Homo sapiens: one gene and its partners. The protein of the gene in region 2 purifies or fractionates together with the protein of the main gene of each other region. This does not show direct contact. Each region holds a gene or a part of one and is shown on either strand. Other genes may lie near its edges. The genes, in order: SETD1B, YEATS2, KANSL3, TAF5L, KANSL2, ZNF608 and UBAP2L.

The links.
Region 1: the proteins of YEATS2 (region 2) and SETD1B purify together in Homo sapiens (affinity purification with mass spectrometry, with the first as the bait; one large-scale study listed by BioGRID). This does not show direct contact.
Region 3: the proteins of YEATS2 (region 2) and KANSL3 purify together in Homo sapiens (affinity purification with mass spectrometry, with the first as the bait; one large-scale study listed by BioGRID). This does not show direct contact.
Region 4: the proteins of YEATS2 (region 2) and TAF5L purify together in Homo sapiens (affinity purification with mass spectrometry, with the first as the bait; one large-scale study listed by BioGRID). This does not show direct contact.
Region 5: the proteins of YEATS2 (region 2) and KANSL2 purify together in Homo sapiens (affinity purification with mass spectrometry, with the first as the bait; one large-scale study listed by BioGRID). This does not show direct contact.
Region 6: the proteins of YEATS2 (region 2) and ZNF608 purify together in Homo sapiens (affinity purification with mass spectrometry, with the first as the bait; one large-scale study listed by BioGRID). This does not show direct contact.
Region 7: the proteins of YEATS2 (region 2) and UBAP2L purify together in Homo sapiens (affinity purification with western blotting; one study listed by BioGRID). This does not show direct contact.

What each region holds. Positions count from the first base shown.
Region 1 is NC_000012.12:121,817,509-121,821,008, reverse strand, and holds part of SETD1B (histone-lysine N-methyltransferase SETD1B), read right to left. Parts: coding exon 3,305-3,500; intron 3,211-3,304; coding exon 3,105-3,210; intron 1,606-3,104; coding exon 1,114-1,605; intron 1-1,113. UniProt on the Homo sapiens protein: Histone methyltransferase that catalyzes methyl group transfer from S-adenosyl-L-methionine to the epsilon-amino group of 'Lys-4' of histone H3 (H3K4) via a non-processive mechanism.
Region 2 is NC_000003.12:183,700,797-183,704,296, forward strand, and holds part of YEATS2 (YEATS domain-containing protein 2), read left to right. Parts: intron 1-3,500. UniProt on the Homo sapiens protein: Chromatin reader component of the ATAC complex, a complex with histone acetyltransferase activity on histones H3 and H4. YEATS2 specifically recognizes and binds histone H3 crotonylated at 'Lys-27' (H3K27cr).
Region 3 is NC_000002.12:96,628,313-96,631,812, reverse strand, and holds part of KANSL3 (KAT8 regulatory NSL complex subunit 3), read left to right. Parts: intron 1-269; exon of another isoform or gene 270-330; coding exon 331-501; intron 502-3,500. UniProt on the Homo sapiens protein: Non-catalytic component of the NSL histone acetyltransferase complex, a multiprotein complex that mediates histone H4 acetylation at 'Lys-5'- and 'Lys-8' (H4K5ac and H4K8ac) at transcription start sites and promotes transcription initiation.
Region 4 is NC_000001.11:229,616,123-229,619,622, forward strand, and holds part of TAF5L (TAF5-like RNA polymerase II p300/CBP-associated factor-associated factor 65 kDa subunit 5L), read right to left. Parts: intron 1-3,500. UniProt on the Homo sapiens protein: Functions as a component of the PCAF complex. The PCAF complex is capable of efficiently acetylating histones in a nucleosomal context. The PCAF complex could be considered as the human version of the yeast SAGA complex.
Region 5 is NC_000012.12:48,672,239-48,675,738, reverse strand, and holds part of KANSL2 (KAT8 regulatory NSL complex subunit 2), read left to right. Parts: intron 1-3,500. UniProt on the Homo sapiens protein: Non-catalytic component of the NSL histone acetyltransferase complex, a multiprotein complex that mediates histone H4 acetylation at 'Lys-5'- and 'Lys-8' (H4K5ac and H4K8ac) at transcription start sites and promotes transcription initiation.
Region 6 is NC_000005.10:124,649,140-124,652,639, reverse strand, and holds part of ZNF608 (zinc finger protein 608), read left to right. Parts: intron 1-341; exon of another isoform or gene 342-1,033; coding exon of another isoform or gene 1,034-1,040; intron 1,041-2,942; coding exon 2,943-3,030; intron 3,031-3,500. UniProt on the Homo sapiens protein: Transcription factor, which represses ZNF609 transcription.
Region 7 is NC_000001.11:154,223,955-154,227,454, forward strand, and holds part of UBAP2L (ubiquitin-associated protein 2-like), read left to right. Parts: intron 1-1,129; 5' UTR 1,130-1,169; coding exon 1,170-1,259; intron 1,260-3,327; coding exon 3,328-3,405; intron 3,406-3,500. UniProt on the Homo sapiens protein: Recruits the ubiquitination machinery to RNA polymerase II for polyubiquitination, removal and degradation, when the transcription-coupled nucleotide excision repair (TC-NER) machinery fails to resolve DNA damage.

The DNA of each region.
Region 1 (3,500 bases), on a different chromosome or scaffold from region 2:
CTTGCAGAACCCACGTATAGGCGATCGCCCTCCATATACAGTGGGTTTCGCATCCCACCGGTCTTTTCCGTCCATATTTGGTTGAAAACTGCATGTCCGTGGGCCCTAGCCATGTGTTCAATGTACAGGGGCAGCTGTAATCCTTTCCTGAAGGACTTATTAAAGGTAGGTGCTAGGACCGGGCATGGTGGCTCACGCCTGTAATCCCAGCACTTTGGGAGGCCGAGGTGGGTGGATCATGAGGTCAGGAGATCGAGACCATCCTGGCTAACGCGGAGAAACCCCATCTCTACTAAAAATACAAAAAATTAGTCGGGTGTGGTGGCGAGTGCCTGTAGTCCCAGCTACTCTGGAGGCTGAGGCAGGAGAATGGCGTGAACCTGGGAGGCGGAGCTTGCGGTGAGCCGAGATCGTGCCACTGCACTCCAGCCTGGGTGACAGAGCGGGACTATGTCTCAAAAAAAATAAAAATAAAAATAAAAAAAGAGGTAGGTGCTAACCACATGCAGCTATCTATGTAAGCCAAAATAAATTGAACACTATTATAAATTCAGTTCCACTGTGCCACTGGCCACGTTTCAAGAGTTTGGTAGCAACATTGTGTCTGAAGGCTACAGTGCTGGACAGCACAGCCTGAGAACGCTGCCATCACTGTGGAAAGTTCTACTGGCCATGCAGTTAGAGTTCTCATATGCTCTGTGCAGCAGCATCACGATGCCGGAGGGGGCAATGCCTGCAGCCCTCACCTGGCCCAGCACCCCAGGGCCTACCCCACCGACTTGTCACTCAAGTGACCATGGACACCCATCCTCCTTTTGGGGAGCATCTCATGGGACTGATGGTCCAAGGACCAAGCCACCAGGGAAACGCTGGCAGTGAGGACTGAAAAATAGCAGTCGTTCCCCTTTGGGTTGATCCATGCAGTGCCAGGCTCAGTGCTGGCACCCAACACCTCATCTCGCTCGAGGGAGGCACAACCGGCTGATCTCGTTTTACACGGGAAACTGAGGCTGGGGACGGTCAGCGATCTACCCCAGGAAGCCCGGGCTGATTCTGACAGTGAGGACTTCCTGCCTCCCTCCCACCACCCTCCCAGGGGGTTGCAGGTGTTACCTGGAGCTCGCTCAGGGGACAATGGGGGTCGAGCCTCCACCTCCTTGGCAGGGGGCTCTGGAGACAGCAACATGGCCCCTTCCTGGCTCAGGCCTGGTTCCTCAGGCGGCTCCCTGGAGTCCGCTGGCTCTTCAACACCCACAGGCAAGGGGGGCTCGTCCAGCATGGAGGGCCGCTCCTCAGGGGCCACAGCCTCAGTCTCGATGTCCACCTCCTCTTCCATGCCCAACGAGTCCACTGCAGGTGCCCCCGGGGCCAGAGCCGCTTCCTCCCCGTCCTGCTCAAAGTCCTCAGGGCCTGCAGAAGCCATGCTTTCCTCGGCCACCATCTCCTCCTCCTCCTCTTCTTCCTCCTCTTCCCTGGCCACTACCTCCTCCTCATCCTCCGAGGATGAGGGCGAGGACTCGGAGCTTGACTCAAACTCAGAAGACTCGGAACTCTCACTGGACGACGTGGCTTCGGCCTTGGAGGTTACAATGCTCACTGTCTCCTCTGGATGGGGGACACAGACGAGGGGCTGCCTGAGGACCCGCTGTGCCCCAGCCCCCACCAGACCCCTCACCAATGGCCTCAAACTGGTGGCACCCAGGCTGAACACGGCCCTCAGATATGTGTGTGGGGCATGTGTTCACTAGGAGTCTTTTTTTTCTTTTTTTTGAGTTTTGCTCTTGTTGCCCAGACTGGAGTGCAGTGGCACGATCTCGGCTCACTGCAACCTCCACTTCCTGGGTTCAAGCGATTCTCCTGCCTCAGCCTCCCAAGTAGCTGGGATTACAGGCATGCACCACCACGCCCGGCTAATTTTGTACTTTTAGTAGAGACAGGGTTTCACCATGTTAGCCAGGCTGGTTTCAAACTCCTGACCTCAGGTGATCCACTTGCCTCAGCCTCCCAAAGTGCTGGGATTAAAGGAGTGAGCCACCACACCCGGCCGCTAGTAGTCGCTTTTAAAAACTGAGGTAAAATTAACATAACAGAAAACTGCTCACTTTTTTTTTTTTTTTTTGAGACGGAGTCTCGCTCTGTCGCCCAGGGTGGAGTGCAGTGGGGCGATCCCGGCTCACTGCAAGCTCCGCCTCCTGGGTTCACGCCATTCTCCTGCCTCAGCCTCCTGAGTAGCTAGGACTACAGGCACCTGCCACCATGCCCGGCTAATTTTTTGTATTTTTATTAGAGACGGGGTTTCACCGTGTTAGCCAGGATGGTCTCGATCTGTTGACCTCGTGATCCACTTGCCTTGGCCTCCCAAAGTGCTGGGATTACAGGCGTGAGCCACTGCGCCCAGCCAAAAACTGCTCACTTTGTAAAAAAAATTTTATTTATTATTTTTTTTGAGGTGGAGTGTCACTCTGTCACCCAGGCTGGAGTGCAGTGGCATGATCTCAGCTCACTGCAACCTCTGCCTCCTGGATTCAAGCAATTCTCCTGCCTCAGCCTCCCAAGTAGCTGGGATTACAGGTGCCCACCACCACGCCTGGCTATTTTTTGCATTTTTAGTAGAGACGGGGTTTCACCATGTTGGCCAGGCTGGTCTCGAACTCCTAACCTCAGGTGATCCACTCGCCTAGGCCTCTCAAAGTGCTGGGATTACAGGTGTAAGCCACTGCGTCCGGCCAACTGCTCGTTACAAAGTGATAATTCCAGCAGCATTTAGTACATTTGTAATGTTGCACAACCACCACCTCGATCTGGTCCCTAAGTATTTTTATCAGTTGAAAAGGAAGCCATGTAGGCTGAGCAAGCCCCCCTGAACACCGGGCTCCCCAGCCCTAAGGACCACAGACCTGCTTTCTATTTCTATGGACATGCCATTATGTTCACGGCACTCCCTGAAGATGGAACCGTACGCCACCCTGTGTGTGTGTTTTAACAAGGTAACGTCTCAAAAGCACAACATTTTGGCTCAGAAGTATTTCTGACAATTGCTCAGGCTCTGCCCCGGGGAAAGAGGGACTCCGGGAGGGCCAGGCAGCCACGGCCTCCCTGCTCACCTTCATCCGAGTCCCCTTCGTCCTTCTCACTCGCCTCTGACAGGGCTGTGTCCTCGTCATCGTTCTCAGACTCGTCCCGGTCATCACTGTCGTCATCGTCGTCATCCTGGGGGAGAAGGAAGAGTGGGGACAGGTGAGCCGAAGGGTCTGGCCCTCGTCGCCTGGCCCGGCCCCCTGAGGCTTCCTGGCCTGCTAGGCACCTTATCTGATGTGGATGAGGTTGAGGAGGAGGAGAGCTGGCTCCTGGGGACTTCCTCCTCCTCCTCCTCCTCCGCCTCCTCTTCCTCCTCGGTGCTCTCCTGTTCCTCCTCCTTGTCGGAGGCCGAGGACGAGGGTGAGGTGGTTGAGGACCCCGAGGATGATGACGCGGATGAGGACGAGGACGCCGACAATGAC
Region 2 (3,500 bases):
GATACAAAAAGCCACGTGCTGTATGATTCTATTTATACGAAATGTCCAGAAACAGGCAAGTTTATCCACACAAAAAGTAGTTGCCAGGGGGATGAAGGGAGAGGAGAATTGAGAGTGACAATTAAGAGGTAAGTGGTTGCTTTTTGGAGTGATGAAAACATTATGGAATTAGATAGTGGTGATTTTTGTGCAACTTTGTGAATATACTGAAATCCACTGAATTGCACTCTTTTAACTGGTGTGTGTATATATATATGTGTGTGTGTGTGTGTGTGTATATATATATAAATTTTTTTTTTTTTTGAGAAGGAGTCTCGCTCTGTCGCCCAGGCTGGAGTGCAGTGGCGCAATCTCAGCTCTCTGCAAGCTCTGCCTCCCGGGTTCACGCCTTTTCCTGCCTCAGCCTCCTGGGTAGGTGGGACTACAGGCACCCACCACCTCGCCTGGCTAAGTTTTTTTGCTTTGTATTTTTATTAGAGACGGGGTTTCACCATGTTAGCCAGGATGATCTCGATCTCCTGACGTCGTGATCTGCCTGCCTTGGCCTCCCAGTGCTGGGATTACAGGCTTGAGCCACCGCGCCCGGCCGGTCAATATATATATTTTTTGAGACAGGGTCTGTCTCTGTCGCCCAGGCTGGAGTGCAGTGATGCAGCCGTAGGTCATTGCAGCCTTGAACTCCTGGGCTCAAGCGAGCCTCCCACCTCAGCCTACCAAGTAGGTGGGACTACAGGTACACACCACCATGCCCAGCTAATTTTTTTCTTTTTCTTTTTCAGTAGAGACAAGGTCTCCCTATGTTGTCCAGGCCGGTCTTAAACTCCTGGGTTCAAGCAATCCTCCTGCTTTGGCCTCCCAAAGTGCTGGGATTACAGGCACATGAGCCACTGTGCCTGGCCTAAAACAGTACCTTTTAAGTTAAGTGAATTATATTTCAATTAAAAAAGTATATCCACACTCTCAAATAAATTAAAACTTAAAAACAAAATACATAACAATCGCCAGTAGAAGCACTGCAGGTAAAGTTCAAGCCCCTCCCCACTGCATTCTCCTCACCCTCAGCTTTCATTACAACCACTTAACAGGTTCCCCACAGCTCACTCCTCAGACAAGCAGGATAAACAGCCCTTGCCTAGAACTAGTTCTACTTCTCCATGTCTGCAGTCATCAAAGTTCACATGCCTGAACATCTCACAGTTACTTTCCAATGGGCTCATATTTCACCTCTACCTTCTCCGCTTACCGAAATGCTCTTCATCCTTCAAGAATCAAATTCCGACTCATCCATGAAGTGAACTCCAGCCTTCGAAAGCTTTTTTTCCCCCTAACTACTACAGAACAGATGATATGGAAACAATCTGCATCAGGCCAGCCGCGGTGGCTCATACCTGTAGTCCCAGCACTTTGGGAGGCCAAGGCGGGTGGATCATTTGAGGTCAAGCGTTCGAGACCAGCCTGGCCAACATGGAGAAACCCTGTCTCTACTAAAAATACAAAAATGAGCCGGGTGTGGTGGTGCGTGCCTGTAACCCCAGCTACTTGGGAGGCTGTGGCTGGAGAATCACTTGAACACGGGAGGCAGAGGTTGCAGTGAGCCAAGATCGTGCCATTGCACTCCAGCCTGGGCGACATAGTGAGACACTGTCTCAAAAAATTAAAAAAATTACCTTAAAAATCTCAAACCCCTTAAACATCCCACATGCCTCATTCTTCCAGAAAAAGAAAGTTGAACCGGTGGGGTAAAGGAATGGTAAAAGTGGCCGGGTGCTGTAGCTCACGCCTATAATCTCAGCACTTTGGGAGGCTGAGGCGGGTGGATCACCTGAGGTCAGGAGTTCGAGACCAGACTGACCAATATGGTGAAACCCCGTCTCTACTAAAAATACAAAAAAATTAGACGTGGTGGTGTGCGCCTGTAGTCACAGCTACTCGGAGGCTGAGACAGGAGAATTTCTTGAACCCGGGAGGCGGAGGTTGCAGTGAGCCAAGATTGCGCCACTGCACTCCATCCTGGGCGACAGCAAGACTCTCTCTCTCAAAAAAAAAAAAGGGAATGGTAAAAGTTACCTAAAGTCAGCTTTCCAGGTGCATTAATGGAGAGAAGCAGTGGCATGGATAATTTAGAGGAGCTGTTTTATCCTACAGTCTTCTGTGTGCTAGTTTGCAAGGTTGTAGACAGCGTACTGGCCAGAATGGATTCTGGGGGCTGACCATATTAGCAAATTGTGTAGTCTTAAAGCCGTTTTATTTATAGGAAAGTTGGTGTTTTTGACCTGGAAATATATAAGACTGAAATAATGAGACAGTGTTTTTGAGCTCAGCTGTCTTTTGCTCAGCTCTTTACATGTTATTAGAAATGTCCCACATCACGTCAGTCCTAATGACCAGATCGCTCAGCTTCTCGCCATTCAGGTCCAGTATAAAATTTTGATTATTTTTACTTAAAAGATCTGTTTTTGTTTTGGATGCCAGATGAGTTAAAGAAAAAGTGATATGTTAGCCAGCAAATGGGAACATATTCAAAAGGTTTTGTGTGTCAGACCTGACTTAGAATAATTAGCATAGCATTTTTTTGTCGGTACTAACTCTGGTGAAAATCATAACAGAATCTTCTGTCTCCTAGAGTTCCCTTGGTCTGAGTCTGTCCTTTAATAGAGGTTGGTGCAAAAGTAGTTGTGGTTTTTACTTTTGCACCAACCTAATAGATAACTTCTCGTTCCTTCTGTTACAAAATGAGCATAACTTTGGAAAGACGATCAGGTGTATTTTGTTTTTTCAGTTCTTTGTATCAAAGGGAGGTGACAGTGTTAAGAGTAATGTTTAAATAGGTGGAGAAATTTTAATTGACATTGAAATATAGATTTTGATTTTTTTGATAGGGCTTCTGCATGCCTAATGATTTTCTCAGTATAATATTAAAATGGATATATATTCTTAGAGTGTACATTGAACAGTCTTTGGGAAGAGTGGATGGTGTTGGGGTGAAGCTGCTGCCGTATTTAGTTTTCAAAATAGAATTCAGGAAATGGATCATATGTATTTGGATTACTGAAAGTCAGTTTCATTAAAATGTTCCTAAAGGGGCCAGGCGTAGTGGCTCACGCTTGTAATCCCAGCACTTTGGGAGGCTGAGGCAGGCGGATCACCTGAGGTCAGGAGTTCAACCCTCCCTCTACTAAAAAAATAAAATAAAATAAAATAAAAAATAGCCAGATGTGGTGGTGGGTGCCTGCAGTCCCAGCTACTTAGGAGGCTGAGGCAGGAGAATCACTCCAACCTGGGAGGCAGAGGTTGCAGTGAGCCGATATTGCGCCACTGCAATCCAGCTTGGGCAACAGAGTGAGACTCCATCTCAAAAAAAAAAAAAAAGCTTCCTAAAGCTTCAACAGTAGACTTGTGTAGTACAAATCCCCTTCGTTCTAGATCTCCCCACTTTGGTTTTAGGATTTAGCCTTTGTTCGTTCTGCTTGTTTCTTTTTCTGTTGCTGGCAATAAAACTT
Region 3 (3,500 bases), on a different chromosome or scaffold from region 2:
GGCTTCCCAAAGTGGTGGTATTACAGGTGTGAGCCAGTGCACCTGGCCCATATTTATCTTAAAAAAAAAATAGATGTTTATCATTTTTTATATAGACTCATTGAAAAAATGACTTTGTGTTCTTCCAGTACATACCATCATGTCTGAGAGGGCAGAGATCTAGACAAGTGTGGGAAAGATGACTTTGGATCAAAATTTTCTTGTGAATATAATGTGCTTATGCGTAATTTAAAGCTGACTGTATTAAAGATACATTTTTTGTCAACCAGATGATTGTTAAATACCTGTGAAGTATGTGTGGCCCGGTCCTATTTCCTCACCTGTTTACAGTGAATCAGACGTCCCAATAGATGTGGAGACGGTCACATCAACGCCTATGCCACTCTATGACAATCAGAAGGCACGCAGCGTGATGAATGAGTGTGAACGGCATGTCATCTTTGCCAGGACTGATGCAGATGCCCCTCCTCCACCAGAGGACTGGGAGGAGCATGTCAACAGGTAGGCTGCTCATCAGGAGGATGATCACTGCCCTGTAATTATTTTGTATCATCTTCATTGAAATAACACTTATTAGGACCTTATTTCATTTGCAGCAACACAAGTCAGAGTGTTCTCCAAAGTCTCACATTATAACTCTCAGTTCACCATGCTGTGTGTGAGCTCCTTGAGAGTAGGGCTTACATCTCAGCCATCTTTGCATACTTCACACTAGGACGTTGTCTGGCACACAGTAGGCATATAATGTTTGTTGAATAAATAAGTGAATTAAATTTGATACATATGACTAGCTCTGTAGTAGCTTCTGTTGTATAAGTTATGATATAGGGGTTACCCAAACTGCAAAAAAATGAAATGTACATTTGTAAGATATTGTGTTTAAATGGTTTATAACTAGGATGATGGAAGTTGTGAAGTCACATGAAAAGCTAACAGATGTTTGAGTGGCTTTTAAAAATAGATTTGCAGGCTATGGAGGGCACACTGAAGCCTATTTTCACGAGTATACTGGCTAGTTTTGTTCCCAAGCTTTCTACTGCCCCCAGGGGACTCAGCACTCCTCTCCTGGTTATTTGTCCCTGTTCATTTGGTAAACATTTACCTAATTACATAACAGCTTTTTGGGGATATTATTTACATACCATACAATTCAGCTATTTAATATGTACAGTCATTGGTTTTTAGTATAGTCAGAGTTGTATATTCATCACCACTATCAATTTGATAAACATTTTCATCATCCTAAAAAGAAACCTCTTACCCATAAACAGTTACTTCCCGTTTCCTCCCAGCTTCTCTGGTCCCTAGGAAGCACTAATTGACTTTTGTCTTTATAGATTTGCCTATTCTGGACATTTCATATAAATGGAATCATGCAATATGTGGTCTTTTCCTACTGGCTTCTTTCACCCAGCATGATGTTTTCAAGGTTTATCCATGTGGTTGCGTGTATCAGCACTTCATGCTTTTTATTGCCAAATGACATTACATTGTATGGATAGCCCACATTTTATTTATTCATTAATCAGTTGATAGATATTTAGATTGTTTTCATTTTTTGGCAATTGTGAATAATGCTATTATGAACATTTGCATACAAGTTTTTGTGTGGATCTAAGTTTTTAATTCTCTTAGTTATATACCTGGGAGTGGACTTGTTGGGTCATATGATAACTCTGTATTTAACCTTTGAGGAATTGCCAGACTGTTTTCCAAAGTGGCTGTACCATTTTACATTCCTACCAGCAGTGTATGAGAGTTCTAGTTTCTCCATATCCTTGCCAACACTTACTGATTTTCTTCTTTTTTAAAAAAATTATAACCATTCTACTGCGTGTAAAGTGGCATCTCATTGTGGTTTCAACTTATATTTTGTTGATGGCTTTTTGTCTGTGTATCCATATATCTACTATATATATAAGGAAATGTTACTTCTTATATCAGGAGTTGGTAGGTGGTAACTTTCCATAATTTTGGAGAACCCTTATTTTATAATAGAGAGAAAGAGGGGTAGAAAGTTTGAGGTGATTGACATGACTTCTGAAGCTGGTTGGAAGTTGGGAATGAGATTGAACAGGTGTGCTTGTGTGATCAAAACAGCAGCTGTTGAGGGAGGAGCAGTTCTGCACCTTGGTTGAAAAAGCTTGTGAAGAAGTTGGTTGGGGTCTTGCATTGGAATTAATTTAGTGCCTTAAGAAGCTCTTTTCTCACGCCTGTAATCCCAGTACTTTGGGAGGTTGAGGCGGGTGGATCACCTGAGGTCGGGAGTTCAAGACCAGCCTGACCAACATGGAGAAACTCTGTCTCTGCTAAAAATACAAAATTAGCTGGGTGTGGTGGCGCATGCCTGTAATCCCAGCTACTCGGGAGGCTGAGGCAGGAGAATCACTTGAACCTGGGAGGCGGAGGTTGTGGTGAGCCGAGATCGTGCCATTGCACTCCAGTCTGGGCACCAAGAGTGAAACACCATCTCAAAAAAAGAAAAAAAAGCTCTTTTGAGCTTCAGATAAAGAAGAAAACTGCTACGAATGAAGATCAACTACTGGAATATTGCTAGAGTCAGTATATTCAGCAAAAGGATTTATCACTATTTTTACAGTTAATAATAAAAAATAACGACGATGGTAATAACAAAAAGGAGCTACCGTTTGTTGAGTGCTTTCTAGGTGCCAGACATTGTATCAATGTCTCTTCAAATGCATTGTCTCTTAATCCTCCCAATGACTCTTGGAGGTATATCCCCCCTTCATCTCTGCTCAACAGGATGAAGAAACTGAGCTCAGGGTGTTTAAGAAACCTTAATTAGGAAGTGATGGAGAAGGATTTTGTTCAAACCAAGCAGCCTGACTCCAGAACCCAGTGTTCTCAACTACCATACCCTCTGCCTTAATTAAGGGCAGTAAGAAGAGATTAAGACCAGTTAGTGGTGGCTGAACAAGGTGGCCTGGTATGGTTATGTATCCCTTTGTGGTATTTTCTACTACCTTGTCCTTTGCAATTTCAGAAAGTACATAGGAGAACTGTGTGATTTTTTTTTTTTTTGTCAGTTTATCCATGGTTATGATTAAGAGGTTTTTGTGGACAATTCATACTTATCAAAGTCATTAGAGACTTAATAATACTATAAATACCAGTTTGTTTCTTTTTTCTTTTTTTTGAGACAGGGTCTCACTCTGTCACCCAGACTGCAGTGCAGTGGCACGATCTCAGCTCACTACAAGCCTTGACCTCCAGGACTCAGGTGATTCTCCCGGGTGGGAACCTTAACCTCCCAAGTAGCTGGGACTACAGGAGTACGTCACCATTTCTTAATTTTTGTAGTTTTTGTAGAGATTGGGTTTCACCATGTTGCCTAGGCTGGTCTCAAACTCCTGGCTCAAGTGGTCTGCCCACCTTTGCCTCCCAAAGTGCTAGGATTATAGGTGTGAGCCACTGCACTTGGCTGAGTTTCTTAATTTATAAGGAGAGATATAACTGCAAAGCATAAGAGACACTGGGGT
Region 4 (3,500 bases), on a different chromosome or scaffold from region 2:
CCTGCCTTAGACTCCCGAGTAGCTGGGATTACAGGCCCACGCTACCACACTTGGCTAATTATTAAATTTTTAGTAGAGATGGGGTTTCACCATGTTGGCCAGGCTGGTCTCGAACTCCTGACCTCAAGTGACTTGCCTGCCTTGGCCTCTCAAAGTGCTGGGATTACAGGTGCGAACCACCGTGCCTGCTCTTCCATTCTTTTTTAAGATGTAAAATTCCACCTTTTCCGGAAGTCTATTTATTTATTTATATTTTTTTTTTTAGTAGAGAAGGGGTTTTGCTATGTTGTCCAGGGTGGTCTCAAACTCCTGGGCTTAAGCAATTCTCCTTCCTTAGTCTCCCAAATTGTTGGGATTACAGGCATGAGCTACCATGCCTGGTCTTATTTTTCTTTAAACATAAAAAAATTATTTGTATCTAATTTTCGTCCATCTGCAGTTTCTTTTAGTGTATGTGTGGTGAATAACCAAACAAATGTTTTGCCCAGTGACTGTAGCTAACACACTGTCCCAATACCATTTGCAAGTAATTATTTCCTTCTAAACTGATTTGTGGGAGCCCTTTAAAAATATACTCTGAAGACCTACTTTTCAATTCCCTACAAGTCATACAACAGAGCAAACTGTGAAGGCTAGAGACATACTCACAAGTATATATACATGTAAATATAAAATGTTAGGACATTATATATATATTAAACTATATGCCCAGAAAGATTACATTATCTGTGCATTTTATTTCTAGGTTGCCAAAGAGTTCAAAATATTTGTTACAAAGAAGGGGTACTAGGTGTGTGATTGTTAAAAAGAAGGAACACTATGGTTGTGAATCAGTGACATAATGAAACACAATAATAAATTTCCAAATACTGAACTCTCTTCTCACTATGAAATTTACCTTGCTTGGGTATGGTGTATTATTCTCTCACTGTATTGATGACTTAGGTTACTTTTTAATTAAGCTGTTTTTTTAAATTGCTAATACAGGGATTCTGATACTCTGAGAGTGGGGTCCCTGCTCCCATTCTCTGTGGCCACTGATCAGCACTGCTCTATCAGTGATCCTCCAACCTGGCTATACATAAGAATCCCATGAGTGTGTGGATATGTATATAAATAATTTCAGCCCTGCAGATTCTGGTTGTGTTATATTTAGAGTAAAAAAGTTAAATGCACACGGAGGCTGTGACAGTACTGTCCTTTCCCGTGTGGCCCAAAGTCAAGACGAGTCAATCCAACCAGTGCCTCTTCCTATCACTTGCTACAGCTGCTTTTCATCTAACTTCAAGATCTCCTACTCTGCGGGCTTTCCCAAAGCAGCCCAATTCCCTACTCTAGCTGAGACTGAAATCTTTCCGGCTTCCACACTGCCGATCTTTTGCTGACTTGGGAATGCATGCAAATATTGATGCACATCCGTGAGCATTCCAGGCAGATGGGCCTCGATCTCTTAGATCACCTCTGACAGGAAAAAACTCTGCATGTGAAAGACATGTGAATGACTGATCTGGAGAACAGGCTCTGCAATGACACAGTGTCCTCAAGGTGCGACAATATACCTATGTGTCTGAGGAGGAAGGGAAAAGATGTGAAGTTAGGAAAGAGTAAACAGAACGGAGTAAGAATGAATGATAGTCAACACTGACCATATTTAAGATTGCTAGAAACTAGTCTGTAATACTGATTCTAACAAATATGCTTAAATTAGCTGCCCCAAATAGCAATTTCTCTGAGTCCAAACTACCATTTATGATAAGGGCGCTTCCCTGAGGGTGGGTGGTGAATCAACTGTATGGCCATGGATCTTAAGGGCAGGAATTCTGGCAATGACTCTCTTGCATAACCACGCTAAACTCAAATACTAGAGACACGACCCAATCAACTCAGCTGGGTTTTATTCCAATGTACATATATTTCAAGTGACATGGATAATTAATGAACCTGAGATAAATCGGTCCCCTCCACCCAGACTGATTTCCAGAGTACTAATATCCAAAAAGGGACAAGTGAAGAAAAAAAACTCTCCTTAAACTAGACCTAAGTCTCTGGAGAGACTCATACATGAGACGAACAGTGCAGTTTCGTTACCTGCCTAGCTTTTCCTATAATTATAAAATCTTTCAAACTGAAATTGGATTTAAATATAATTATACTCTTTGTTAACATTTCAGAATTTCTCATCATTTTCAATTTATATAAAATACTTAACTTTCAGAGGTAAAAACAGATGTCAAATACTCTGCTCTTCATATCACATTATTGATATTTCTGGAAATCAAAAATTTCTGGAGGATTTTGACACAATGTATATCTATTCTCATGTATCAACAGTTGCCAGATTGGTATTTCTGGAAATCAAAAATTTCTGGAGGATTTTGACACAATGTATATCTATTCTCATGTATCAACAGTTGCCAGATACTTCAACCAAGTTGCTATATAAAATCCCACATGATCATTTCAATGTAACAACTCTGCAGGGAAAACCACAGCCACACTTAACATTCAACTACAGAAACATGGGGAGGTGGAGATACATGGAACCCAGGCATCCTCTTAAGATGCTGTCAGTGTGGAACTCTAGTCTGGTCAATCCCTTCAGTGGTTACACGCTGCATCCTATCCCTCCACCCCCACCCCCGTTAGGCTCTAATGTACACGGTCGGTAGAGGAGGGCTGGGAGGCACCCTCATCCACCATATCACAGGTTAAAGTACTACACAGTTCCACGAAATGCCAAAAGAGTACTACCTGGCTCCCCCATCCCTCCCCCTGCCCCAATAAGGTGGCAGTTTTGAGTAGGGGTGAGTTCAAGATAAATTCAGGCAAACTCACTACACAATCCTCAAATCAGCTCTTCAACTGAGACTTCTGACTGTTGGCTTTTGAGTAATTGTATCTTTTTTCCAATGGCAAATTTATGTTTATAACAGAAGAAAAAAATTATTTTTTTGCATTTTTTTGTAAAGTGTCTACTAGGTAACTCAAGTTATTAGTTCTCTTCACTCACAGCAACTAAATGGTTGTAACATCAAAAGATCAGTCTAAGTAGGACCTAAAGCCCTAGCTTTGCATTAATCATCATGATAAAGTGTATTCAATAAGCTTTGTGAAAATATAAATCACAACTGAAAAATAAATGAGCCATACTACTTTCAGTTTCAGTCATACCTCATATAATTTAAAAATTATGATAGCCTTTCATATTCAATCTTTGCTCAGACTGACATAAATACACTTGAACTAGAAGCTGTGTTTTTTCCCATGGTGTCCTAAGAAATAAAATGGCACATGGATAAGGCCGTAGCTGGGCTCAGGACGCAGTGAAGAATGTGGCGTTTTGGTGGGGATGGCAGCAGTGGTAGAAAGTAGGTGGAAATCACGAAATCCAGCAAACAGATGTCATGAGAAGTAGATTTTCTCCAACATCAGCTGGGACCTCCATGATGTTCCAGAAGTCTTGTTTCATCAACTACTTACCCTACAGCCTTCCACCTACG
Region 5 (3,500 bases), on a different chromosome or scaffold from region 2:
TTACATGAACCAGCCGGCATTCATTTAGTAGGTTGCTTACTGCCCCCACCAAATGATTTCTAATAACTTCTAATAGTAATGGCTTCAGATAGGTACATTTCAGTTCCAGACCATTGGTTAAATTCTCTTCTGACAGGGTGCAGTGAAATTAATTTTTTAAAACAATTTTTATTTTTCTCATTTTCAGTATTCAAAAAGTGAATTTCATTTTAACAAACTCTATATTAGGTTAAGGCCTCAGTATTTTAGGTTACAGACAGGTTAATGTAGGCATAACCCATTTTTCTGAAGATGTAACTTAGTCACCTTGTGAAACCGTTATGTATTTATTTTTGAGACGGACTCTCACTCTGTTGCCAGGCTGGAGCGCAGTGGCACGATCTCAGCTCACTGCAACCTTTGCCTCCTGGGTTCAAGCAATTCTTCTGCCTCAGCCTCCCTAGTAGCTGGGACTACAGGCGCACGCCGCTGTGCCCGGCTAATTTCTTTCTTTTTTTTGTATTTTAGTAGAGATGGGGTTTCACCATGTTGCCCAGGCTGGTCTCAAACTCCAGAGCTCAGGCAGTATGCCCACCTCGGTCTCCCAAAGTGCTAGAATTACAGGCTTGAGCCACCGTGCCCAGCCAACTGTTACATATTTTTAAAGCCTTTTCACATTTTCTGATAGTCTGTTAGCTTTTGTCATTTCTGTAATTTGCTGGTTTTATTTTATTTTATTTATTTTTAAATTTATTTTTTATTAATTTTATTTTATTATATATTATTTTTATTTATTTATTTAATTTGTTTATTTTATTTAATTTTTTATTTTTGGAGACAGAGTCTCGTTCTGTCGCCCAGGCTGGAGCGCGGTGGTGCGATCTCGGCTCACTGTAATCTCTGCCTACCAGGTTCAAGTGATTCTCCTGCCTCAGCCTCCCGAGTAGCTGGGATTATAGGTGCTTGCCACCATACCTGGCTAATTTTTGTATTTTTAGTAGAGAGGCTGTTTTGCCATGTTGGCCAGGCTGGTCTCGAACTCCTGACCTCAAGTGATCCACCCACCTTGGCCTTGTGCACCACACCTGGCCCTTTGCTGGTTTTATTAACCATGTTTTGATTTTTCTTAATTTCTTTTCACTTTTACTTCAGAATATAGTTAAGTACCTCTTATACACAGGTAATATTGGCTTTTGTTTATATTTATGAAGAAATTTTGGCAGAAATTACTTGCTCTCAGTCCTAAAGTTAATTTTGTATATTCTGTGTATTTCAGTGCCTTAACAGCTAGTTTTTAAAAATAAAGCAGAGGCTGGCCACAGTGGCTCACGCCTGTAATCCTAGCACTTTGGGAGGCCGAGTCGGGTGGAATGCCTGAACTCAGGAGTTTGAGACCAGCCTGGGAAACATGGTGAAACCCCATCTCTACTAAAAATACAAAAAATAAAAAAATTAGCCAGGTGTGGTGGCACACGCCTGCAATCTCAACTACTGTGGAGGCTGAGGCACGAGAATTGCTTGAACCCGGGAGGCGGAGGTTGCAGTGAGCCAACATTGTGCCACTTCAGTGCAGCCTGGGAAACAGAGCAAGACTCTGTCTTAAAAACGAAAAAGTAATAAAGCATAATTTTTTGACTTAAAATTAGTATAATTTATGTGTTTTGCCTTTTCAATAAAATTTTTACTCAGTATGAAACTTAAGGTATATAGCTTGTTCTTTGTATTTATGTAATGATCAGACGGTGAGTGAAACAAAATTTTTAAAATTCAAAGTTATTCACTTATTTATTTATTTATTTATTTATTTTTGAGACATGGTCTTGCTCTGTCACCCAGGTTGGAGTGCAGTGGCGCCATCTCAGCTCACTGCAGCCTCCCACTCCCAGGCTGAAGTGATCCTTTCACCTCAGTCTCCTGAGTATCTGGGACTACAGGTATACACCACCGTGCCCAGCTAACTTTTGTATTTTTTGTATTGACAGGGTTTTATCATGTTACAGCCCAGGCTGGTCTTGAACTCCCAGGCTCAAGCAATCTGCCTGCCTCGGCCTCCCAAAGTGCTGGGATTACAGGCGTGAGCTATCACACCTGGCCTCATCTCTTAATTTTGATTGCATAAATCAGAGCCAGAGAACAGTCTACCATATATTAATCACTAGCAAAACTTTTAGAAGTTCTTTTTTTTTTTTTTTCTTTTTTTGAGATGGAGTCTTGCTCTGTCACCCAGGCTGGAATGCAGTGGCACGATCTCAGCTCACTGCAACCTCTGCCTCCCGGGTTCAAGCAATTCTCCTGCCCCAGCCTCCCGAGTAGCTGGGATTATAGGCGCCCACCACCATACCTGGTTGATTTTCGTATTTTCAGTAGAGACGGGGTTTCGCCATGTTGGCCAGGCTGGTCTTGAACACCTGACCTCAGGTGATTCGCCTGCCTTGGCCTCCCAAGGTGCTAGGATTACAGGTGTGAGCCACCGTGCCTGGCCAGATATTCTTTTAGTTTATAATTGGCAGCAAAGCTTAATCAAGTTGATATGGATCCGTGCCAGATCTTTGGCAATTAAGGGTTAACCTAGGGTACTGAATTTTGAGAATATTGTCAAGAAAATTAGCTGAGGACAGGGTATAGCCCATTTTGACTAGTTATTTGAGGGTCCATATGAGCTCCAATATAGGCCTATATTTTTTAAACAATTACAAATTTTGGCTGGGCACAGTGGCTCATGCCTGTAATCCCACCACTTTGGGAGGCCGAGGCTGGAAGATCGATCTGAGGTCAGGAGTTAAGACCAGCCTGACCAACATGGAGAAACCCCATCTCTACTGAAAATATAAAAATTAGCTGGGCGTGGTGGTAGGTGCCTGTAATGCCAGCTACTTGGGAGGCTGAGACAGGAGAATCACTTGAACCTGGGAAGCGGAGGTTGCAGTGAGCCAAGGTTGTGCCACTGCACTCCAGCCTGGGTGACAGAGCAAGACTGTCTCAAAAAAAAAAATTATTTGATGTTGGTATCTTTAGTGCTTTAATTAAAATATATTGCCAGGTGCAGTAGCTTATGCGTTTAATTCCAGCACTTTGTGAGGCTGAGGCGGGAGCATCGCTTAAACCCAGGGGTTCAAGCCTGGACAACATGGTGAAATCCCATCTCTACAAAAAATACAAAAATTAACCAAGTGGGGTGGTGCACACCTGTAGTCCCAGCTACTCGGCAGGCTGACGTGGGAGGATCGCTTGAGCCCAGGAAGCAAAGGTTATAGTGAGCTGTGATTGATTGCACCACTGCACTCCATCCTGGGTGACAAGAGTGAGACCTTATCTCAAAAAAAAAATATATATATATATATATATATATACGTATATATATATATACATGTATATATATATACGTATATATACATGTATATATGTATATGTGAAAGATACATGTTAATTGAACACTTTAAAGCTGTCTTGACTGGTAAGTGATGATTTCATATCAAAACATTAAGAATGTAGATTAATAAAAGTTTAAAGTGTTCCGCATG
Region 6 (3,500 bases), on a different chromosome or scaffold from region 2:
CAAAGAAACAGTACACTGTGTAGTTTATATGAGAAACATTCCTTAAGCCTTCATTCCAATATAGAGTGGCAGATTTGGCTGTGTAAACATGTGCCTGTATATATTCGGATGTGAATTGTGGGCAGATTTAAACACTCTGTGGCATTGTGAAGCGGCTCGTACATATAAAGAAAGATAGACACAAGCACACATATTTAATTAGCACTGCTTGATGGAGACTGTTCAAAATCTCCTTGGGTGTAAAGCATTTGTTTTGAGCATTTTAAATACGGAGTGCTTCTGGAAAAATAAGGGTTACTTATTTAGGCCCTTTGAGGTTGAAAATGGATTTTTCTTTCCAGGACTTGATTCCTTCCGAGTGCAAATAACAACGGCATCACTTGTACTTCGATAAGAGGTCTGCTTGTGTGGCTTCCAGAAAGAGCAGCAGGAGATGTGAATAATTTTACAGTGAGGAAGTTGCAACTGCAGATTAGCCTTTGTGACAGCTTCAACCTGTGGCCCCAGATAACCAGTGATTAATTGCCTGCCCTGGGTCCCTTCCTTTTTTCAGACTCCAGGTTTCCCTTGAGCCTGTATTGAGACGGTGAATTTCGTTCTGAGGGTTCTGCGTGGGCCGGCGTGTTGTGTGGAGCCGCGTGGCGCGGGGAGCGCAGCACGGTCACGCAGACCGAAGCTTTCACTGCACGGCCGGACTCGTTAGTGCGAATGAGCCTGTGTCCCGCGTGCACCGAGGGAGCCGAGCAGCGCAGGCGGCCCTCTAGCCCCGCACGGCCAGCGCGCCGTGGGGGATGCGTCCCTTTGCCTCCGCCACGCTCACCTCTACCCGACCGCTGCCTCTGTGCTCCGGGCGGCCGCCTCGGCCCAGCCAATCAGACGCGAGTGCTCGCAGCGGGCGCCGGCCAATCCGCGGCCAGCGTTCTCTGGAAACGCGAAACCCTTAGGGGAAAAGCAATAACAAAAGCCTTTCACTGCAGACAAATGTTAAGTGTCTGTGCAGACTTTTCCTGTTTTTAATTTTATTACTGCAAGAATGGAAGGTTTGTTGTTTCTTTCATGTTTCCTTTCAAGCAATTTTAATTATATATTTGTGCTACATCAGGGACTCTGGAACGCAGTGATTCAGCCTATTGGATCTAAAGCTAAAATGCAGTAACCTTCTGGCAGTACAGATATATTCCTGCACTGTAAATATAGCTGACATGCTAAAGAATTTTAAGCAGCTGCAAAGGTCTTTGACACCACACACAGTGCCCCAGAGAGAAGATGATGAGAAAACCAGCTCAGTCTTCCCCTTTGCCTCCTCTCCCACCCCCTCCCCTTTCCTGAAGGGATGTGTTCATAAAGAATCCTTTCCTCCAATTGTTCTGTCTTGTGCAGATTTTGACCAAATGCCTAATTACCATGGATTCTCATCGCAATAGGAAATTTTATACACAATGGTTTTAAAAAAATTTCCTGAGGGAATTTCATTGGAATCAGCTATGATTTGAGGAAATACTTGCTTTGCTCCATCCTAGCCTTTCCCCTGCTAGCCTATTGCTACAGTACACTGAATTAACACAGAGTAAATAATTCAGCTGTTGCCTAAGTAATAGCAACATAGACCATATGGGAAACAATTTTAAAATCTCCTTTTGAGACTTTGGAAAGAAATCGTTCTCCATTACTTGAGTCCCAACCATTGAAATATTTTACCTGCTGTTAAAAGGTTCCCAAGGAAATGAGTCTTACCTTGTCAGGTTTCCCTTACTGTAAAGGAGCCCACTACAGGTTTTCTGTAAAATTCACAATGGCAATGGTAATGCAAGTGAGCAAACTAGCTAGAAACAGATTTTGACTAATGTCTTCTGGTGCTTCCAAGAAAGAGTAGGGGTAGATGCAGAAAAGAAAACAAAGGCTCAGTTAAATATTTTATTTCTTTACCCTAATAATTTATGTATGTCTCAAAATCAAGGTTCTATTAAAATATGCTTTAAAGAAGTGATTTTTGTAATTTGGCATTTGTCCTCTCAGAAATAAAGAGGATATTATATTTTCTCTGTGACATTTGGTATACTAAGCACACTTAAGTTTAGTAATTCACAGATGCAGTGCTAAATTAAATTGTCTGTCTGAAAAGCAGTTGGAAAAAGCAGAATGGCTTGCAGGAAACGAGTGTGTTAGTTTTGAGATTTCTTTTCTAATCCTCTGAGGCAAATGCGTACCAAAGTTGACTCCAAAGATAACCCCAAGAGTAAATCTATTGTGCACATTTGTTTTCTTAAGAGGGCTATTTTAGGAGTCCTTAATATGAAACAAAACCAAACACTGAAACAGATACGGTACCCAGGCTGATTACTGTCTCACAAAGTCAAAGAGGGGAGGATTAGGGAAGTGAAATCGTAGTTGATTGTCTGCTATCTGGACTCTTGAGTCCCCACTCTCCTGTCTATGCCTATTTTTATGCACCTGCATAATTATTTTTTCTTAATAAAAATCACCATCATTTTATATTGTTGAATTGGAAACAAAACCGATTCCTTTCAGTCACCCTCTGGTTTAAGCACTGGTAACTGGCGCTAGTTTATATTGGCTGCTTGCCAAACGAAAGCAATTATGTGTAATAATAGAAAAATTAAGAGGTGAGTGTTGCTGTTTTACAGCAGGACATGGCAAAAACCATTTCCTTCTGTCAGCAGTATCTTGATTACACTCTCACACACAGTCTCACTCCTTTGTACCACATGCGCACGCGCACGAATGCACAACACACATTATTTCCTGTGGGTTTTAACTTGAGGTCACTGAAACCAGAAAGAGGAAGAATGCAAACCACAGCTTTTAAAAGCAAATGAGAATAGAACTTGCTGGCAAAAAAAAGAGAAAAAAATAATAAGTGAACTGGAAATAACAGTAATCAGTGGTAACTATGATCCTTTTTCATCCCCTGCCTCCTGCAGGTGTCCTAGTGGTCAATGTCACGTGGAGGAACAAAACGTACGTGGGAACCCTACTGGACTGCACCAAGCACGACTGGGCCCCTCCCAGGTATGAACAGGGCCTTTTATTTCTCTCCTTCCCCATCCTCTCTTTGCAGGGAAACTGTAGAGAGAGATTCATAATACATAAAAGTGTGCCTGTAATTGAAACCAGGCAAAGGAGAAATGAGCAATTTAGGATTGAACGCAGTAAAATGCAGATGCTAAATTTCTTTTCTATCAGAAGATCTCTGCTCCCCACCCCTTCTCTCCTGTCTTTGTTTTCATTTTTTCTCAAAGTGGGAATTTGAACTGGTTTGGAAGCTAGCTACTTGAGCTGTTTTTCTTTGGTTTTTCTGAGGAAGAATATAAGCCCTTGGTCGCCTGTTCTTTTGCAGGTGTTGGAAATTGTCAGTCTTTTCCTTGACTGGGCCCAGCCCTGAAGCTACTGGAGTGTTGACTCCTCTTTACTGCATTGTGTACTTTGTGATTTCACCTGGCTCTTTTGGGGATGCTCATTTTCACATCTGTTACTTGCTT
Region 7 (3,500 bases), on a different chromosome or scaffold from region 2:
CTCTTTGGAAGGGAATAAATGCAGAGTAACCTATTATTTTGAACACTCTATCATATGATTAATGTTTTCTTTTTTACTAAATGCAGCAGCTGAGATTGTATTATAAAACAAAGTATGAACTAAAGGAACTTGAATTCAGTAGAATCCTTCCTTGTTAGAAGTCTTGTAACAAAAACTATATTCTGGTTTGGGGAAGGCCCTGTGTGTTCTGTGTCTCTTTAAAGACTCAACTAAGTCATCTTGCCAGCATTAAGGTCTCAAGTTTAAAATGATTTCTTAGAAGCACTTTCTTCCAAATAAAACTTTGTGCTAGATGCTTTTGGTTTGAGACAAATTTGAGATTCCCTGTATATTAAGGTGAGTGGTGGAGGGTAATTGCCATTTTGGTTTCTTGAAAATGTGGACTAGGAGACCAAGAGAAGCACCTGTAAAAGCAGTGTGTTGGAATTATTTTCCAGAGAACAGAGATTCTGGACAAAGTCATTGGGGCTAATACGTACCCTGTTGAAGGCTGTGGTTTAAAAAAACAAAAAACCCCCACAAACACAAAACAAACCCATAGCATACTGAGAGAGATGAAACTTGAGGGACAAAGAAGAGTCTAGACTTGAACTTGTCCTTTCCCAAGCAATGGAGGTCACATGCAGCTTACATAAAAAAGGTTGTAAGGCAGGTAAGGCTGTTTTCTTAGGTGATTGAATACAGTATTTAAAATTATTTCTCTGGAGTGTAGACTAATCTCCTTCCTGGAAGGTTTTTGTTTCCAGACTTTACTGATTATCTTTCCTTCTGTCAAAGGTACTTCAGATACTTGCATCTATGTAAAAGGCTTTTGATTATTAGTTAAATGTAAAGTCTGCTTATGGGGGACTAGTAACCAAACTGCTGTAACTTCTTAAAAAAATCCATCACTTACACATGCTTTATACATTTCTTGTTACATAAAAATGGATTAACAGCCATAGCTCCTTAAGGAATTTATCAAGCTAATTATGTTGTAAGAATAAATGAATCTTATTGATTTGTTCCTTTGAAGAAGTGAAAGTGTTTGGTGGTGAAGGTGCTGATGAGAGAGTTAAAAACATATTTTGCCCACATTTAATACCTAATTTTCTTTTAAATCTTTCAGTATTCTACCTTGTAAATACTGTTATTTGTATATACTGTAAATGATGACATCGGTGGGCACTAACCGAGCCCGGGGAAACTGGGAACAACCTCAAAACCAAAACCAGACACAGCACAAGCAGCGGCCACAGGTAAATAATCCAAGGCATACGGATTCATGGATAGCGTTGCCTGCTGATACTGGTTTCCATGCAGTACAGCATCATTCTGTGCTTTGAACTGTTGGTTTAGGTTCCTTATTTTTGTTTTCTAGTCCTTGGCTCTTTTTTTACTTAGGTCCTGATAACTGTTCATGACATGCTGTAAGGCAAGATGCTTACTTTTTTGTTGTTTAATACTGTATTATGAGGCTTAGCACTTTATTATGGGTCCTGTGCTTTTTATCTTTTTTTTTTTTGTTTTGTTTTAAGATAGGAGCTCCCTTTGCCTAGGTCAAAGTGCAGTGGCACAGTCACCATTCATTTGTAGCCTCAACCTCTGGGGCTTAAGTGATCCTCCCGCCTCAGCCTCCTGAGTAGCTGGGACTACCAGTGCACACTACCATGCCAGGCTAATTTTAAAATTCTTGTAGAGATGGTAGTCTTGCTGCATTGCCCAGGCTGGTCTTGAACTCATGGGATTATAGGTGTGAGTCACTGCCCGGCTCTATAACTCTTAAGATAGCATTTCCCTTCTCTTACCTGGGCCATTTTAGCAATACCTTTCTATTTCTTAGACCTTCCACCTTGATATCTCTCTCTTTTGTTTTTGAGACGGAGTCTCGCTCTGTTGCCCAGGCTTGAGTGCAATGGCGCCACTTCGGCTCACTGCAACCTCTGCCTTCCAGGTTCAAGCAATTCTCCTGCCTCAGCTTTCTGAGTAGCTGGGATTACAGGAGTGTGCTACCATGCCCAGCTAATTTTTGTATTTTTAGTAGAGACAGGGTTTCACCGTGTTGGTCAGGCTGGTCTCGAACTCCTGCCCTCAGGTGATCCACCTGCCTCGGCCTCCCAGAGTACTGGGATTATAGGCATGAGCCGCTGTGCCCTGCCCCACCTTGATACCTCTCTAGCAAGCCTTTTCCATTCCAGATTTTATCCTTTGCTCCTCTTTTCCCCAACTTGTCTTTTATTTTCCTCTCTGGTTCCATTGAGACCTTACCTGATTATTCCTTTCCCATGAGGAGCTGGCAACTTCACTATGTTTCTTCAAAATTAAATGAAACACCTTAGAGCATTGCTCAATTTTAAGTTTTAAAGAGTAAATTAACCTCTTGGATATTAACTTTGATGTAGATATATTCTGTTTCTCATACCAGGTTGATGTTAGTTGGTATGTAATGTGAATGAATTACTTATATTTGATTATGGTCAGATAAATCGAATATGTAAGATTAGGACATCCCCCTTACGCATTTTTCTTTCATCTGTGTTTTCAAGTGGATTTCTAGTAGAATTATAATACTTAGTTGGGGCAGTAAAATTCCTAGTATCTGAACATACACTGGATATATAGAAGATGTGTTGAGTCTATTGTCAGACTTGTATTCTAAGCTCTAGGAATAAGAGGATGGCGTTGGTTATTACAGAAATAAGAATAGAGTTTACACATGGCTTTGTGACTTAATATGAATTAAGGGGCAGATGTTTCAGAGCGGTTCTGTGATTCTAAGACGGAAGTCCCTTTAACTGTGAAGATTGGTGAATGAGTTCCTTACTCTTTCTGTAACAGTTTCACTCAATTTTTTGTCATTTTACTGATTTAAGCATCTTTTTTTTTGAGGTGGAGTCTTGCTCTATCACTTAGGCTGGAGTGCAGTGCCACTATCTCAGTTCACTGCAACCTCCTCCTCCCAGATTCAAGCAATTCTCCTGCCTCAGCCTCCCGAGTAGCTGGACCTACAGGTGTGCACCACCACACCCGGCTAATTTTTGTATTTTTAGTAGAGACGGGGTTTTGCCATGTTGGCCAGGCTGGTCTCAAACTACTCACATCAGGTGATCTGTCTGCCTTGGGCTCCCAAAGTGTGGAATTACAGGCGTGAGCCACCACCCGCACCTATCCCTGATCCCCCATTAAGCGTCCTAAATGGTGCTTTATTACTTGCTCATTTGTTACAAGGAAAAGAAAATTGGGGCAGTGGAGGCTGACGAAATAGGTTCCTGTTCTCTAAACTGTTGCCTCATGATTATGCTTTCTTGATCTCATCTCAATTCCTAGGCCACTGCAGAACAAATTAGACTTGCACAGATGATTTCGGACCATAATGATGCTGACTTTGAGGAGAAGGTGAAACAAGTGAGTGTATCACTAATTTACTGTACACTATGAGAAAAGATACCAGTATTAAGGCATAATCAAATACTGTAGATGGATGCCAGGATACTTTCTAC